Linked DNA regions of Homo sapiens: region 2 is linked to region 1. Evidence: fine-mapped expression QTL. Tissue or cell type: whole blood. Region 1 holds a variant in brackets; the other region holds the start of a gene. All regions are shown on one strand. Distances are from middle to middle.

The links. PIP is the estimated chance that this variant, and not a neighbour inherited with it, causes the effect.
Region 2: it holds the start of SMYD2, and the variant in region 1 is fine-mapped to the expression of SMYD2 in whole blood (TOPMed, PIP 0.98).

Annotation. Positions count from the first base shown.
Region 1 is chr1:214,372,416-214,380,520 of GRCh38, forward strand. It overlaps PTPN14 (protein tyrosine phosphatase non-receptor type 14), which reads right to left. Exons shown (of 19, transcript NM_005401.5): 14 at 5,544-5,687; 15 at 3,804-4,022; 16 at 296-424. Among named protein-coding and RNA genes, the nearest start is that of SMYD2, 95 kb to the left of the region's middle. RefSeq lists an enhancer at 7,917-8,105. The variant T/C (reference allele first, on the strand shown) is at 4,560.
Region 2 is chr1:214,277,307-214,285,411 of GRCh38, forward strand. It overlaps SMYD2 (SET and MYND domain containing 2), which reads left to right and starts at 3,853. Exons shown (of 12, transcript NM_020197.3): 1 at 3,853-4,121. The coding sequence starts at 3,949. LOC124904509 (a long non-coding RNA gene) reads right to left here and starts at 3,730. Exons shown (of 2, transcript XR_007066876.1): 1 at 1,408-3,730. RefSeq lists an enhancer at 2,808-3,373 and silencers at 3,653-3,942, 3,963-4,082, 4,113-4,272.

The DNA of each region.
Region 1 (8,105 bases):
GTCATTTTTGGTTTTCTGTTGTTTTATTTTCAGTTTAGTGCATTACAATCCAAGGAAAAGAGTTAAAAGCCAGATGAAAATGGGAGGAGGAAAAGCTACAACAATCAATTATCTCCAGGGGAAAAAATATCTATCTGGAAGTAAGAAAACAGATGTATACCAAAGAGAAAAGCATGTGCAGAGAAACAGCACTGCAGGAAGAAGGATAGGGTAGCAAAGTTGACAGCACAAAGCCCATCTTCTGGCCACCCTTTCCCCTGGGGAAAAAGGATGTGGAGTAGGCCATTCCCCTTACCTCCTCTGCAGTGACCATGGCAATCACATTCACTCCCTGCTCCCACACCATCTGCCAGAAGTCGTGGCACGTGTGTGGCAGGGGCCCCTGGGTGGCTATGTAGTGCCATTCTGCCCCGCCAACCACCACCTAAAAACCAAGAAAAGTATCGGTAAATAAACCCCAAGTCCGGACAACATTACCTGCTGATCACCTGTCCATCTGTATCCACCTTAAAACCTTGGATATATTTTTGGGGCCGAATGAATTAGTTCAATGAACAAAAACCCTGAGACTACAGAGGCTAGTGTAGTGACACATTCTCACATGAAAATACTTTTTGCCACTCAAGCCTATTAAATATTTATCTAATCCTGGTTTTTGAGACTGAGTCTTGCTCTGCTGCTTAGGCGGGAGTACAGTGGCACGATCTTGGCTCACTGCAACCTCCGCCTCCTGGGTTCAAGCAATTCTCCCGTCTCAGAATCCCAAGGAGCTGGGATTACAGGCACTCGCCATCATGCCCGGCTAATTTTTGTATTTTTGTAGAGATGGCGTTTCACCACATTGGCCAGGCTGGTCTTGAACTCCTGACTTCAGGTGATACGCCCATCTCAGCCTCCCAAAGTGCTGGGATTACAGGCCTGAGCCACCAGGCTTGGCCTTTACCTGATCTTTGTTTGCAACTCACAGTATATGCAAACTAGTGCCTATTAAAAACCATACACATACACACATGTATAGATGCATATATATGAACATGTATAACTTAGGATTTACTTGTTACAGAAATAATAGTTACTGCTTACTATGTGCAATGTACTCTAACACTTTCCATTCTTTTCTCTTTTCTAGTCGATTTCATTGAAACACACACACACACACACACACACACACACACACACACACACACACACACCTGGTCATGACCACTAAACTGATTTCACATTCTACCACTGTGTTGTAATCCAGTTTGAAAAGCAGTGCTTCATGGCATCCAATTAAACAATAAAAAAAAAAAAAAAGATCATGAAACAACATCCCTTTTGGAGCACTATCTTTCTCCTGTGGATCTGAGATGAAGTGTATCATAAACCTCTGCTGTCACTGCTGCTCTGTGGTGCCATGCACGGCAGAGATGCTACGAATGCTCTTGTCAACAGCATATATTTTATCAATAGCTTCACCTTGGTAGTACCACAGCATCCAACTGAACTACAGTCATGACATGACTTTGGATAATAAAATTATTACCCCTGCAGCTCAGGGTGATCAGGGGAAGATAATTCTACAGCTATAAATACTAGCTGCTGAGAACCATAAATAAGAAGTTGTACCCAAAGTGTTAAAGGTCATGCTGTCAAGGTGAAATGGTGGCCTTTGGAGGAATTCTTTCTGTTCTCCCTTCCAGGTCTGTGCCTTGATATTGCAAAGTCAGGTCCCTTCTACATCTATACAATGCAGATCTCTGGAGAGTTCAAAAAGTAATGAAGTAATCATTGTTTGAAACTTTTTCCCCTCATTTATTTGATAAAACTGTATGCTAACTTGGTTCAAACAAAAACAATGTAAGTTATTGTCTCATTACACAAGGCATGTTTAGGTCAAAGCTGGCAAGAAAAATCCATTTTCCAAATACTGGTGGGAGATAACATTCATATATTTGCTGGCTAGGAGTTTGGTTTATCCGTGGAATTGTGATTTTAAACATTAGCCTCTCTGGCACCCAACGTATAGGAAACATAAATACTTCCAGAGAATGCTGCTGCTGCCTGGGGCCTTTCAGTATATTCCAAGTATTGACAGAAGGGTATTAAAAACTGCATTAAAAACACAACAAGCAGTGCTGCTGAGGTAGATTTCACACATGTGATTCCACCTCTGGAGCAAATAAATCTCTGTTCTGTGTTAACGGCTGCTTGGAACCCAGGGGGGAAAACACTGGCAAAATATACTCCTCTATTCCAAAACACAGGGACAAGTTCTTGCAAGGTCCACGGGTCTATGAAATGCACCCATGTCTAACCCGGATCCACAGGATGAAATGTGGGCCACAGAGAATACCAAGGAAGGGAATGCTCCTCGGTTAACAATGCCCGATGGGCACAGTTTATACAAAGTGACAGCTTTTTTCAGAGAGCAGATGGAAAATAGTGGAAGAGATCTGGCCAAAAGAAGAAGATAATATAATATTTCTATGTAAGATTTTCATAGACACTCTATCAGGAAGCAGCTGTGTGATCTGCATCTTTGTTGGAATACATTACTTTGGTCATTGTTTCATAATGTAAACTAAGCCCATGAAACCCACCACTGACAGTTTATTTAAGAGTTTCCTAGAGTTCACTTTTTACTTCTCACTCTCAAAAATCCAAGTTAAAATTAGTAATATGATCTATGATAGTTACTCTTTTATATTTCTTTTGACAGTACTTTCTAATTATTAAAAACTATGGTTATCTGTGTATATTAATAAAAATAGTATATACCCAACCATACTATACTTTTCCCATTCTGTATCAAAACTAGTTATAATTGATACACAAGCTAGATATCTAACTCGCCTTTTACAGGCTTAAAAAAACCTGTTAATAATTCTGCTACAGTTGAAAAGTCCAATGAGGAAAGTAAGTAATTCTAGACAAGGCCGAAAACAGGTTTCTAAGGCTATTGATCACAGTGGACTATCAATTGAACCTTGTGTTATTTAACAACACCTATAACACTGGCTTTAACATTAATAGATGAACAAATCTCCCACTTCAGAGTTCAGAGCAAATGGTGACATTCTAAATAAGTGTCCCTCTGTTAACAGGGACTCTGAGGAAGGTAAGCTATTTAAGAAACATTTAACTACAGGTACACATGTATCCATAAGTCAAAGTTTTAACTGCAGAAGTGCTAAACTATGTAATACTGACATATAAAGGTTTGAAGTATTTGAAATAACAACAAAAATTTAGTAACACAAATTCATTGACTAATGTGGCAAATCTTTCAAGATTCAATATTAACCACACTTTTATAGTGTAGGTGAAAATTACTCCACTCTTCTAAATACCATGCAATAATAGGACTCGCGCTTTTATAAAATGCATAACCTGCAGTATTATAAGGGAAAAACAATAGTTTCTATTGTTATTGAACATGACACTTTTATGTCAGTAACGCAATACCTGTAACTTCCAAAGTCTCCAGCACCTGCTAATTACAAACTGAAAAGGATAATCTGAGTATAGAGAGAGTTACAGCCCACAGAGAGAAGGAAAAGTTAAAGCCTCTGTAATGAGCGAGCTTCAGAAATCGCTGACCTGAAGTTCTTCCTGAGGCTGCTAGACTTCCTTCTCTCTGCAGTGATAGACATGCCCTTCCACTTGACTAAGAAAAGCACAGGAGTTCAAAAACAATCCCTGAGGGTCTGGGGACAAGCCAAAAGGTACAACTGCAGCCCACACATTTTCTTCTCCCCGCATTTTTCCCTTTAACCCAGCCATCTTTACCAAACCTTCTAACAGGCTTGCCTTCTTACCTTGATGTGGGAGGCATTAATGTATCCTGTGTTATTTTCTTTGGTTGGTATCAGCTCTACTCGATTCTCCTCATAGGGGACAACTTCACGGATTCGGCTGCGCTCGGCGTTTTCTGGCAGAGCTGCTGTGCTGAAAATGCCATTCGCCTTTTTCTTTGGAATTTGCTCATATTCTGTGAACACCATTCCCTCTTCTAGTTTCTTCTTCAGGGTTCTGAACTGCAACAGAAATTGATCTTCAGCTCTCTAAATTATCTGATCCAAAAACTCAATGAAACAACCAAATTTCTTTAAATATTTAGCGATTGTGTTAAAAGAGATTTCAAGTTCTACAATCAATGCTTGGTTTGTCTCATTATCAACCATATTGATATTTTCCCTTGTCTAATAACCATTTTCCTTCTTACTCATATTATAAGTAGAACAAATCTGCAAGAACTAGCAAGAGTTGAAATTCAAAAATCAATATTTTTGCTATTAACAACTCTGTTTAAAGTCCTAATGATAAAGAGACTGTTAATCTTAATTATCCAAACATCCTTTCCTCCACCTATATAGCTGTTTTTAAGATGATACTGGTCCACAGTTCTATAGCTCTGAGGATTAAATCACTCTCTTTTTTCCTCCTTCCTGGCCAAACTACTAATTCCAATAACATGGTATTAATTGGGTTAAATGATTTCTCTGAAGTCCCTTCTGGCTTTAAAAACATTCTAATTCTGGATACATACTGGCAGAAATCGAACACCCTGGTGT[T/C]ATTAGTACTTTATTACATTTATACAACCTGTTTCTTAACCTTCTGACAGCAATTTCGGGAACTAAGGATCCACCTTTCTTCGCTTCTGAAACACTACCATGCAGCTGCTTTCTGCTTTTCAAAACCCATGTTGTCACAATGCATTATCCAGACAATTATAAATCAGCCTCATTTTATGGTCATACGAGGGGACAGCATTTTTAAAGAACTCTATAAATGCTTGGATACAAGGTCATGTCTTTTGCGGGAGACATGGATGGAGCTGGAGGCTATTATCCTTAGCAAACTAAAGCAGAAACAGAAAACCAAATACTGCATGTTGTCACTTATAAGTGGGAGCTAAATGATAAGAATTTATGAACACAAAGAAGGAAACAACAGACACTGGGGCCTACCTGAGGGTGGAGGGTGGAAGGAGGGAGAGGAGCAGAGAGGATAACCATGGGGTACTGGGCTTAATACCTGGGTGATGAAATAATACGTACAACAAACCCCTGTGACATGTGTTTACCTATGTAATAAACCTTCACATGTGCCCCCAAAACTAAAATAAAAGTTTAAAAAAATTAAAAATAAAAATAAATGCTTGGATAAAATAATCACTTCCTAAGAAGTGGCAATTGCTCACAAAAATCACAGAAATTCAGAGCTACTGCAAGTGTTTAACTTGTGCATTTTACAAAACAGGAAGTGGGCCCAAAGAAATTGAGTGACTTGACCAAGTCATACAGCATGTTAGGGGCTGATGGTTTTAGTCAACCAATGATCTGCCAACCGGACAAAGCAGGAAGACCGGAATGGAGAAACATGAGATGCTGAAAGGGACTGATTTAATGCAACACAGTTATACCTGATCTTCCTAATCTCAGATTGAAGAAAGAATGCATCACACAAATCTCAATGCTGGCATATTCGGGCAAGGAGGGTGTTTTGGGATCCTAAGACTACAGAGAATGAGTCACATTGACAAGCCTGCCACTTACCCTCTCGTCCATGGGAACCCGGGTGGCATCAACTCGATTCTCTTCCCGCCCTGAGACTCGAGCCACCGAGAGCCCATTCAATGCTGCCAACATCAGCGGCCTCTTCTGTGCCTCCAGGCCTGCCATCTTCTGCTTCTCTAGATTCTTGCGGCAAGAAAAGGCATGTGCTCATTGTTTATAATACTAGTAGAATGTTGGAATGTGTTTTAATCTCCTCAAATCTGTAACTCCCCAGCCAAGGAATGCAGACAATCACCATCAGTAGGGCAAATTCAAACACAGCCTTCCCACTATTCCCACTGGGCCCCTGGAAGCCAGTTCCTACAGGACTCCTGAGCTTTTATTCTTAATTAACTCCTTAGCTAGATAGACCAATAAATAAGAAAAAAGACTCCCTACAAATACACCCTGCCATAGGGCAAAACAAAACAAAACAAAAACAAAATAGGGTACATGCGATACACTTTAGAAAGGTAAAGATGACAGGACAAGGAAAAGAGAAACAGGGTTATATGAACCATCTAATCCAATCACAGTGACGGACCTTCTGCACAGACGGAACGGAGCAAAACTTGTAAAACAGTTTGTTGTTGATTGAGAGATCCACACACATAAACTGTAGAGGAAAATCTTCCTAAGTTTCCGTCCTGAGGGGCTAATGCTGAGGACGTTAATTCTATAATTAATCTCTGATCCTTGGAATACCTAAGGGTGTGTCATCCCCAGAATTGAGAGCTGATGTGGTTTAGCAAACTCACTAACAGCAAAGCCTGGCTGGGGTCACCTAAGATGATCCGCAGGCATCACCCTCCAGGCTTCACCCAGAGGGCCCACAGTAACAGAGACGGTGCCTCCCAACACAAATGGTGGGACATCACTGCATGCCACTGAGCTATGGGGGAACATGGACTCCGGAACTGAGCAGACCACTTAGGGAAAGGTTTTGATGTTTACACCTGGTCCTGGTTTGTGGCTTTTTGATTTCCATCCTCTCTGCCCTCACCTCTAAATTGAAATTGGATTGGGCAGGGCTGGTTTTTAGCCTCCTGCTGTGCTTCCTCAGGTCCTTGAAACTAACCGAGTATGAAAAAGCTCTCTTTATGCTCACTTCAAGCAAGCCACGAAGGGCCTTTCCTAAAATTAAGTGTGTCTTTGAAGTTAAGGGAAGAACACAGGCATTCCTCATAGAAGCAGATGAGTTTTGCAGGGTTTAGGATTTTGATTCACAATGAAGGGCAACCAATTTGCAGATTCATTTGACTGACACAGATGAAGAGCCATTGAATCCTTGGTTTCTTTTCAAGCCTTGAGAGACTTTTTTCCTTATTCTATGATGTATAAATTCACTCCCCAGGAAGAGGTCTTGACGGAGCCATCCCACAGGGTTATGAATTATTCTAATTGCGGGTGGGAGGACTGCATGACGCCCTTCCATGTGTCTCCACAATGTCACCTACAATCAGAATGAAGCCTGTGTGAGTGACACTGACAACAGGATGCCTATCCTGGTGGCAGCCGACTCATCAGACAAACCAAAGGAGTATCTCAGAGGAGGTTACTGGGAGAAAGTGAGAAAAGCACTGTGAAAGGAAAATATCTTGGGCCCCAAATCACTAAGCTAAAAGGAAAAGTCAAGCTGGGCACTGCTTGGGCAAACCTGCCTCCCATTCTATTCAAAGTCACCCCTCTGCTCACTGAGATAAATGCATATCTGATTGCCTCCTTTGGAGAGGCTAATCAGAAACAAAAGAATGCAACCATTTGCCTCTCACCTACCTGTGACGTGGAAGCCCCCTCCCTACTTCAAGTCTTCCTGCCTTTGCTTCAAGTTGTCCTGCCTTTCCAGACAGAAACAATATTGACTGATGTCTCATGTCTCCCTAAAATGTATAAAACCAAGCCATGCCCCGACCACCTTGGGCACATGTCATCAGGACCTCCTGAGGCTGTGTGACAGGTGTGTACCCTCAACCTTGGCAGAATAAACTTTCTACATTAACTGAGACCTGTCTCAGATTTTCTGGGTTTACAGTACCCAAGGACTTACCACCAAAAGATATAATATTCTTACAAATGACCCTGGTCTCTCAATTCTCGGGAACCCCCTGGGGGAAGATTCTGGATTAAAATTTTTAGGTCTTTGTTTGCTTGCTGCTAGTTTTGGGGAGAAAGAGTTTTTCTTTCTTTTTTTTTATTTCTGCCACCTCTTTCACTTGGGAATCTATTTTCACTGCTCTCCAAAGTTTTGAGAAGGCAATAGTCCTGAAAAATGGGTCCTGAGCTCCTCTCAGCAGTCCTGCTTTCTTTCCACCTGCACTGTAAGGTGACCCTAACTGGGTCTAAGACAAAAAGTAATTAACTTGTCTTTCTCGGGAAAGGATTATTACTCAGTGATAAATCAAAGTATGTCTCTTTGATCCTTCTCACTCACCCTATCAGCTTGTTACCAGAGATAAAAAAAATAATAATAATTCACAAGCTCTGATCTGTGATCAGAGGGCCTTTTCTTCTCAGTGCATCAACTTCTGGCTAGGGGACTACAAGCAGGGAAGTATCTTCAAG
Region 2 (8,105 bases), 95 kb before region 1:
CAGGATACTCTCACTCTCTCAAGATCCTTAAAACACATTTGCAAGACCCTTTGAAGCCATTTATAGATTCCAGGGATTGGAACCTAATATCTATGAGTGCCAACATTCAGCACTTCATAACTGTTTTCATGTATGTTGGTCTTTACACCTTGGTATGACTAGGATCTATCACAGTGTAAGTACATAGTATGTCCTCAATAAGTGACATGTAGACATAGATGCAGAACTATACAGCATCTAGGCCCTTTGCTCACGTTCACTGGGATACCTTCTTTGCTAAGGCTTCATTTCCCTAGGCCAGAGCTATTTCTTTCATGTGCTAATCTGTGGTTGGAAGGATCTTTTACTCATAAATTAGATCAACTTCTAGGTTAGAGAAATTAAGCAAAGGAGTTTTCGTCCTTGTACCACTTCTCCTGAGTTTCAGTGAGGCAAAGTAACCAAAAACACTCCTTTCAAATTCCATACCTCCTACGTTATGGAGCAGAGGGCGTAGGAAAAGTGGATGGGTCCTGGCTGCTCAAAGACTTCACGGAATGTGAGATTACAGAGTGGCAGAGTGACAAGTATGGGCTTCATGAAGAGCGCTGTCATCAGTCTCCCCGGGCTGGTTTATTGCCATTCTTTGGCTGTTTATTTTAAACACAGTTTTCTTAGTAATTTAAGCTCCTAAATTCATGGCTACTGCTTCAGTGACCATTTCCCCATCTCGAGTCATTTAAGTTCATCACAGGGATTTTTCTGAAATGAGGCGGTTTCTTTTCCAGTGTTCTCAAATCACAGTCACCTCCACCCTCAAGAATAAGCCAGCACTCATCTGGAAAGATAATTCGGTAGCTATGTAATTGCTTTTTTCTCAGCTGTGGAAATCTTTCCCAATTAAAGTGGAAAAAGTTACTTGCAATAAAAAAAGTAAACAGGTAGATTACTTTGCACAATTAATCATTGAAACAGTAAACTGTCTACTGTATTGTAATTGTTTACTTCTACGTCAGTCTTTTCATCTTTTTGCTGGTTAGAGCCCCCAGAAATCAGAATGAGATTCCATGACGTTTATTCAACCTTTAAATATTTTTTCCATTCTCTCTGTGTTCCAGGAGTAGTGATAAGAGCTGGTGATGTAAGGGTAACAAAAACAGACTCATTCCCTGCCCTCATGGAGCTTGTACAGTCTGGTGGAGGATGTAAACACTAATCAGGTCATCACACAGACAAATGCAAACTGTCAGTGGTCTCACATGCCAAGGCTGTTTATATACATGTAAACAGTTATGAAGTGCTGAATGTTGGCACCCCAGCCAACCCACAATGCTGCTGGCAGATCAGTCTAAAACACTGGACTCAATGTGCCACCCCTCACTTAAACGCTTTAACTGGCTCTCCCATGGCCTCTGGGGCAGAACTCACCTCTGGAGAAGATGCTCTTCAGCTGTTCCTGCCTCATTTCCTGTCCTCTCTTCCAGATGCTCAGGGGCCCCCAACTACAAGCTCTGTGCTTTCAGGGTCTTCTGTCTTTGTACGCAGTTCTCTCTGCCCAGAAAACTCTTCTCCCCACCTCCACTTGCAAAATCCTGTCCATCCTTCAGGCTCAGCTCTAACGTTACTTGAATGTGATGCCTGTCTTGACTGTTTAGCAGGCTAAAGCTGTCACTCCCTGCCTGTACTACCACAGAACATTTTGTACAAGCCACCATAACTGCACTTATCCCAGTGAACTGTGTTTGTTTGCAGCAAAACACTGTGGTTAGGAACATGGACCTTGAATTCAGACTGACTTGGAAACCAAATTCTGCAATTTATTGTGTGGCCTTGAAAATCATTCCTTCTGGGTCTTAGTTTCCTTCCTAATTTTGGCAATGAGGGGCATAATACCTAACTCATTAGCCTGTTGTAAAGATAAACCAGATAATGTGTTTAATGATGGAGCACGATGCCTGGTCAACAATACTCAATAACTAATGGTATTATCAAACTTGAATGTGCCAAATGCAAGGACCTAGGACTACATTTTGTCCACTTTTTTTTTTTTTTTTTTTTTGAGACAGAGTTTCGCTCTTCTTGCGCAGGCTGGAGTGCAATGGTGCGATTTTGGCTCACAGCAACCTCCACCTCCCAGGTTCAAGCGATTCTCCTGCCTCAGCCTCCCGAGTAGCTGGGATTACAGGCATGCACCACCACACCTGGCTAATTTTGTATTTTTAGTAGAGATGAGGTTTCTCCATGTTGGTCAGGCTGGTCTTGAACTCTCGACCTCAGGTGATCCGCCTACCTCGGCCTCCCAAAGTGCTGGGATTACAGGCGTGAGCCACCACAGCCGGCTGATGTCCATCTTTCTATCCCAGTTGCTGGCCATAGTCAGTCGAAGTTTCTTAAAATGCATAAATGAAAATACTATCATAACTTCCTTTACTTGAAGACGGGTTAGAGGCTTATTTAGTTTGCCACTAATAAGGGCTTTTTTGTTTTCTTTTGAGACAAGGTCCTGCTCTGTCACCCAGGCTGGAGTATAATGGAGTCACCACAGCTCACTGCAACCTTGACTTCCCAGGCTCAAGCTATCCTCCCACCTCAGCACCACTTGAGAGGTGGTTAATTTCCCATAGAGACGGGGTCTTTATGTTGCCCAAGCTGGTCTCCAACTCTCCAATTCCTGGGCTCAAATGATCCTCCCACCTTGGCCTCCCACAGTGTTGGGATTACAGGGCTGAGCCACCACACCCAGCTGATAAAGACATTTTACTGAAATGCCAAAAATTCCACTGATTTTACATCTCCAATCATATTAATCCTTTCCCTTTGCTCAACCAGTCCTGAACTTACACAGGTAACTGTTTGAGGTCCTATTTTGAAGTAGTGGTTTCTGCTAAATGATCTCGTCACAATTTTAGTCTTTACTGCATGTACATCAATTCCAGTCTTTACATAATCATGTGGAACACGGATTATATTTTCCTTTCTCATATGAAAAGTAATAGCGTGCATGTGTATAGGATTTACGTTTCAGGCTTTGTGGGCTTTAAATCCTTTGACTCCTAACCCAAGTGACTTTTCTAAGATCACAGTTCGTGGGTGGTCAAGCATATTAAAACTACTGCAAACTCTAGCGCAGTGTCCTGGACACTGGCCACAGCATCGCATTATCCCCCAACAGCCTAAATTCCTTGAAGGCAAGGTTCTCTCTGGCTTCCTCTGCAACGTTCGCAGCATGCCTCAGAGACTCGGTGAGCTGGGCCGGCCAATGCATTTCCTCTTCCGTCCATGTAATTCCACTAGAGGAGCAGAGGGCAAACTACGTTCCCATTAAAGCCACAAGGTTTAAAAACCTCTAACCTTGGAAAAGCACACTTCAACCCTCTGCACACCAAACTTCTCTACTGTGGTTTCCCCTCTGCCGCTTTCTCCTTGGCGTTCCCCGATCACTGCCTCTAGGGTCTTTACAAGGGACAGCGAACGTAAGGTTTCGGAGCTGGCTTCGCCCCCTTCTATTTACCGGGGGCTGGTCATCCTTCGGGCCAGGCTGACTGTCTAGGGGTGGCCCTCGGATACCTGGTCCCCGCAGGTGACCCCCCTCCCTCCCACCGAGGAGGAGGGCGCGTCCCGCTCGCTCCGTGGAGACGCCGCGGAGGCGCACACGCCTCACGCCTCCTCGCAGAAGCCACAGGGGCTGCGGCTCTTTGTCGCGGCCACACCGGAAACGGCCCGGAGCGCGCGCGGGGCGGCCGCCGAGGGTCGCGGCGCTAGGCGGGGCCGCCGGGCCCGTCCCCCTCCCCGCGGGGGCGCGCGAGGCCCGGGCGGGGCCGCCCTCCCTTCCGGGGAGCGGGGAGCCGCCGCCGCGTCCGCCGGGCGGCTCCCACCCCGCCCCCCGCAGCTCTAGGTGACGCGTCTCCAATAACAGCTCGCCGGGAGCCGCAGCTCGGGCACAGCCGGCGGCCGCGCCCCGCCGCCACCATGAGGGCCGAGGGCCTCGGCGGCCTGGAGCGCTTCTGCAGCCCGGGCAAAGGCCGGGGGCTGCGGGCTCTGCAGCCCTTCCAGGTGGGGGACTTGCTGTTCTCCTGCCCGGCCTATGCCTACGTGCTCACGGTCAACGAGCGGGGCAACCACTGCGAGTACTGCTTCACCAGGTAGGGCGGCGGCGGCGGCGGCGGCGGGCGGGAGCCGGGGGCGCCGAGCGGGAGGCTTGGACGGCGGCGCCAGGAAGTGCGTGCGGCTCGCGGGGTCCTAGCGCCGGCCCTTGGGGCGGGGTGGGGGGCGGGGAGGGGAGGAGGCCCCGCGCTGCGGCCCCGCGCTGCAGCCCCACGCCAGGCGCCACGTGCGAGAGGAAACAGGACCGGTGCCCCGCTGCACGCCCTGCACTGCACGTTTTCAGAGTTGCTCACGCTGGATGCGCAAACCCGGGCGTGCAGGTTCCTGCCCTCAAATGTGGGCTCCGAGCCAGGCTTGTTCCAAGCCTGGGCACTCACTGCCCTCCCGGTGCATTGGCAGCGGAGCCCCAAATTTGGGCAGCCACGGGCTGTCACCTTTAACTTATGCTTCCTGCGGTGTGTTCTGTTACCCACAGTCCAGCCCTGCCTCAGATTGGCCGTTTCTTCCAAGGAATTTAATGACTTAGTATATGTCTTGTAAAGTACGCTTACATGTTAAAGTACGCTTACATGGGTGTTTGGAGGGACGCCAGTGGGCACTGACCACACCCCCTGGATTCTGAGGTGCTGCGACGATGAGTTGCAGTGTCCAGTTTCGGTTTGGGATTAGGAAAACATGGTCGCAGGAAGGGATTGGGCAAGATGTGTGGTTGCTAATGGTATTTAATTGTAAGATACCATATGTATATATGTGTCTGTGTTTGTATATATGATGCATATACATTTGCACACACCAACACATAATTATATCCTCAACTCTTATGAGAGTTTCAGAGCTTAAAGGCACATTAGAAATCACCAATTCAGTCTTGTCTTTCACTTAATGGATGAGAAAACTAAAGCCCAGAGAGAAAGTGGAGTTACCTTTATCCATTCACACCAGTAGTGAAGGGAGTGAAATCTGGCCTTATTCACTTCTGCCTATTTCTCACTGGTTAGGTGCTCAGTAAATTTACTAAGGCAGGAGGCATGGCATTGGGGTTAAGTTTATATCAGGCCTTCCAGTACTCTGAGTAGAGACCATGATTTGCTTTCTTTGAACCTCAGTTTCTTCATCTTTGAAATGGAGATTCCTGGGCTGGATTAAGCTGACCTGCGGTCCTGCAGGGACCTTTTGAGTACAGGTCTCAAGTCCAGCATACTCAATCTCTCAGACCTGTGTGCCTCATTCTACAATAAGACGTAGCAAAAGAAGGGACAAAGGCTAAATATTGTAGTAATCTTGCCCAGACTCCCTGCCAGAACTGTCTTCCGCTTGGGGGGACCTGGAAAGGAACTAGACACGGAATCATGCCGTGGGCAGCTTAAGGGCTGTATGTGATGTGGCTCTTTGAATTGGTGAGCCAAGAGCTAAAGGGTCATGGCACCACTTTGCAACGTTTGAGTGAAGTGAGCATTGGGTTTTCCCAAAGTTAAAAAGGCTGCTGTGACTGGTCCCTTGATCTTCTGAGCCTTGCTGTGGCTCGGAGTCTGCAGCAGCGTGGGTGTCTGCAGTGGCAGGAGCAAAGCAGGTCAGGCAGCACAGAAGGAGCCTCCATCAGGGATCCTGGCAATTCCTGGAAGCCATCGCCTAAGACCATGGATGCCAGGCACATAGTAGGTGCTTACTTTATATGGGTAGTTGCCAGCCCTGGCCCCCAGTGAATGAAAGATCAAATCCCTCTGGATTTAGAAGGGATGAGAAGAACTGAGAGATGCTTCTCTTTAGCTTTAAGTCTCCTAATTGTATCTACTACGCATACCCCCAACCTTAGAACATTAATGGATGGTCAGATGCAAGTTCACAAAGCATTCAGCCTGGATTATTCTGCCATATGTGACAGTTTGCTGCCTCTTTTGTTGTTAAATTTTTCTGATTGACATTTATTAGTGTTACTCACTGTTGCCTTGGGTCCCTCACCAGGGCTGCAACTTGCAATGGGGTGTTATTACAACTTGCAAACCACTTCTCTGTTTGATTTCCCTGACCTTATGTCAATACCCGTAGTTTATTTCCTCTCTCTCCCCAAAGAATTATTTGAAGTCAATTAAAATAATACAAAAGAAATAATATCCATGATACTTATGCAATTAGAAATATCCTTGTACCCTACTTCATGATTTCTATTAAATCTGAATCATTTACTATTAGTGGTTAGGTCATCTGATAGATTCAGCATCAGTTCCTCTGTCAGCAATTTGTATATGACTTAGGACAAATCAGTCTGTCCAGATGTATGAGGGGAACGTGTATTTTCCTCCATAGGGCCTCAAAGTATAGGAGTAGAATTCTGGAAATGTTCATACTTACAGGTCAAAATCTGCTGCCTGCCCCAGCTCCACACACCCAAAAGAAAGCTACCCCTTATCCTTTCTTTTGCCAGAAGTTTAACATAAACAATACTGCTTAAGATAAATGAATGACCCAAGAATTTCCATGTCATACTAATTGTATCAGGATCTAACTTTTTTTGAAGAAAAGAAAAGTGATTTCTTTAGGTAGGAATAAGTATATGCTATAAATTGAGAAATAATGGAAAATGTCTTAAGTCTCAACAGAATGGGATTCTTACGGTCAGGGCAATTCAGACAAAGGTTTGCTTTGGGGAATTTTTAATTTGTATCACATTTCTCAGTCTGGTGGGTGCCATTGGAGAACATGCGTATCTTGCCTGAACTGCTAGAAGGCAGCTCCTAATAATATTATATAAAGTTTTTCCACTTGGAAGCTGTCCCTATCAGACTTCTCAGATACACTTTATACACACATACACACATAAATGCACACATACACATTTTGGCCATTTATCACCATTTTTTGGTGTGGTTTTTTTTTTTTTTTTTTTTTTTGAGACAGAGTTTCGCTCTTGTTGCCCAGGCTGGAGTGCAGTGGCGTGATCTCAGCTCACCACAACCTCCACCTCCCCGGTTCAAGCAATTCCTCTGCCTCAGCCTCCCGAGTAGCTGGGATTACAGGAATGCGTCACCACACCTGGCTAATTTTGTATTTTTAGTAGAGACAGGGTTTCTCCATGTTGGTCAGGCTGGTCTCAAACTCCCGGCCTCCCAAAGTGCTGGGATTACAGGCATGAGCCACTGCGCCGGGCCAAGTATGTTGTATTTTAAACTAAGTTTTAGACTTTTTTTTTTTTTTGAAACAGTCTCGTCTCACTCTGTTGCCCAGGCTGGAGTGCAGTGGCACGATCTTGGCTCACTGCAACCTCCGCCTCCCGGGTTCAAGTGATTTCCGACTAATTTTTGTATTTTTAGTAGAGACAGGGTTTCATCATGTTGGCCAGGCTGGTCTCGAACTCCTGACCTCAAGTGATCCACCCACCTCAGCCTCTCAAAGTGCTAGGATTACAGGCGTGAGCCACCGTGCCTGGCCTAGACATATTTTAACCCCCAATGTGATTTGTCTCAGAAGGAGAGAAATCTGCTTTAACCCAGTGTTCCATCTAAATATTCATTCTATGTGCCATTCTTCAGGTAGGCAGATCTTTTGATCTTTAGTCTCCCTTTTGATCTTTAGTTCTCTTGGCTCATGGGTTATTTAAGGATGAGATTATTGACATTTCTTTGTTTGTTCTGAGTGTAGGGGGAACCAGGAAAGCCCATTTAGCCTCCTTGGAATAGAGCTGTTAGAACCCAGTTTCAGTGAATTTCGGTCATGTCTGGCTTAGATTAGTTGTTTTAAAAATTAAATTGTTTGCCTGAGCCAAACCCTGTGATTAAGGTGTCCTATTTCAGCAGTTATAAAGGCTTTTTTTCCTCATGTCCCCCAGATTTATTCTCTAGCGTATTCATCTTAGCTTTCCTCTTGTTTTATCAAACCGGCAGAATAATTTTTAGTTGATCTTAATCAGTATTAAGGGCCATGAAATCCTGATGCTGTTTTCCTGAAGTTCTCTGAACTAGCCCTGGTTCTGGCTGCCTGAAGCTGTGCATGAGAAGGGGACCTTGTGCCCAGGACTGCTATGACTC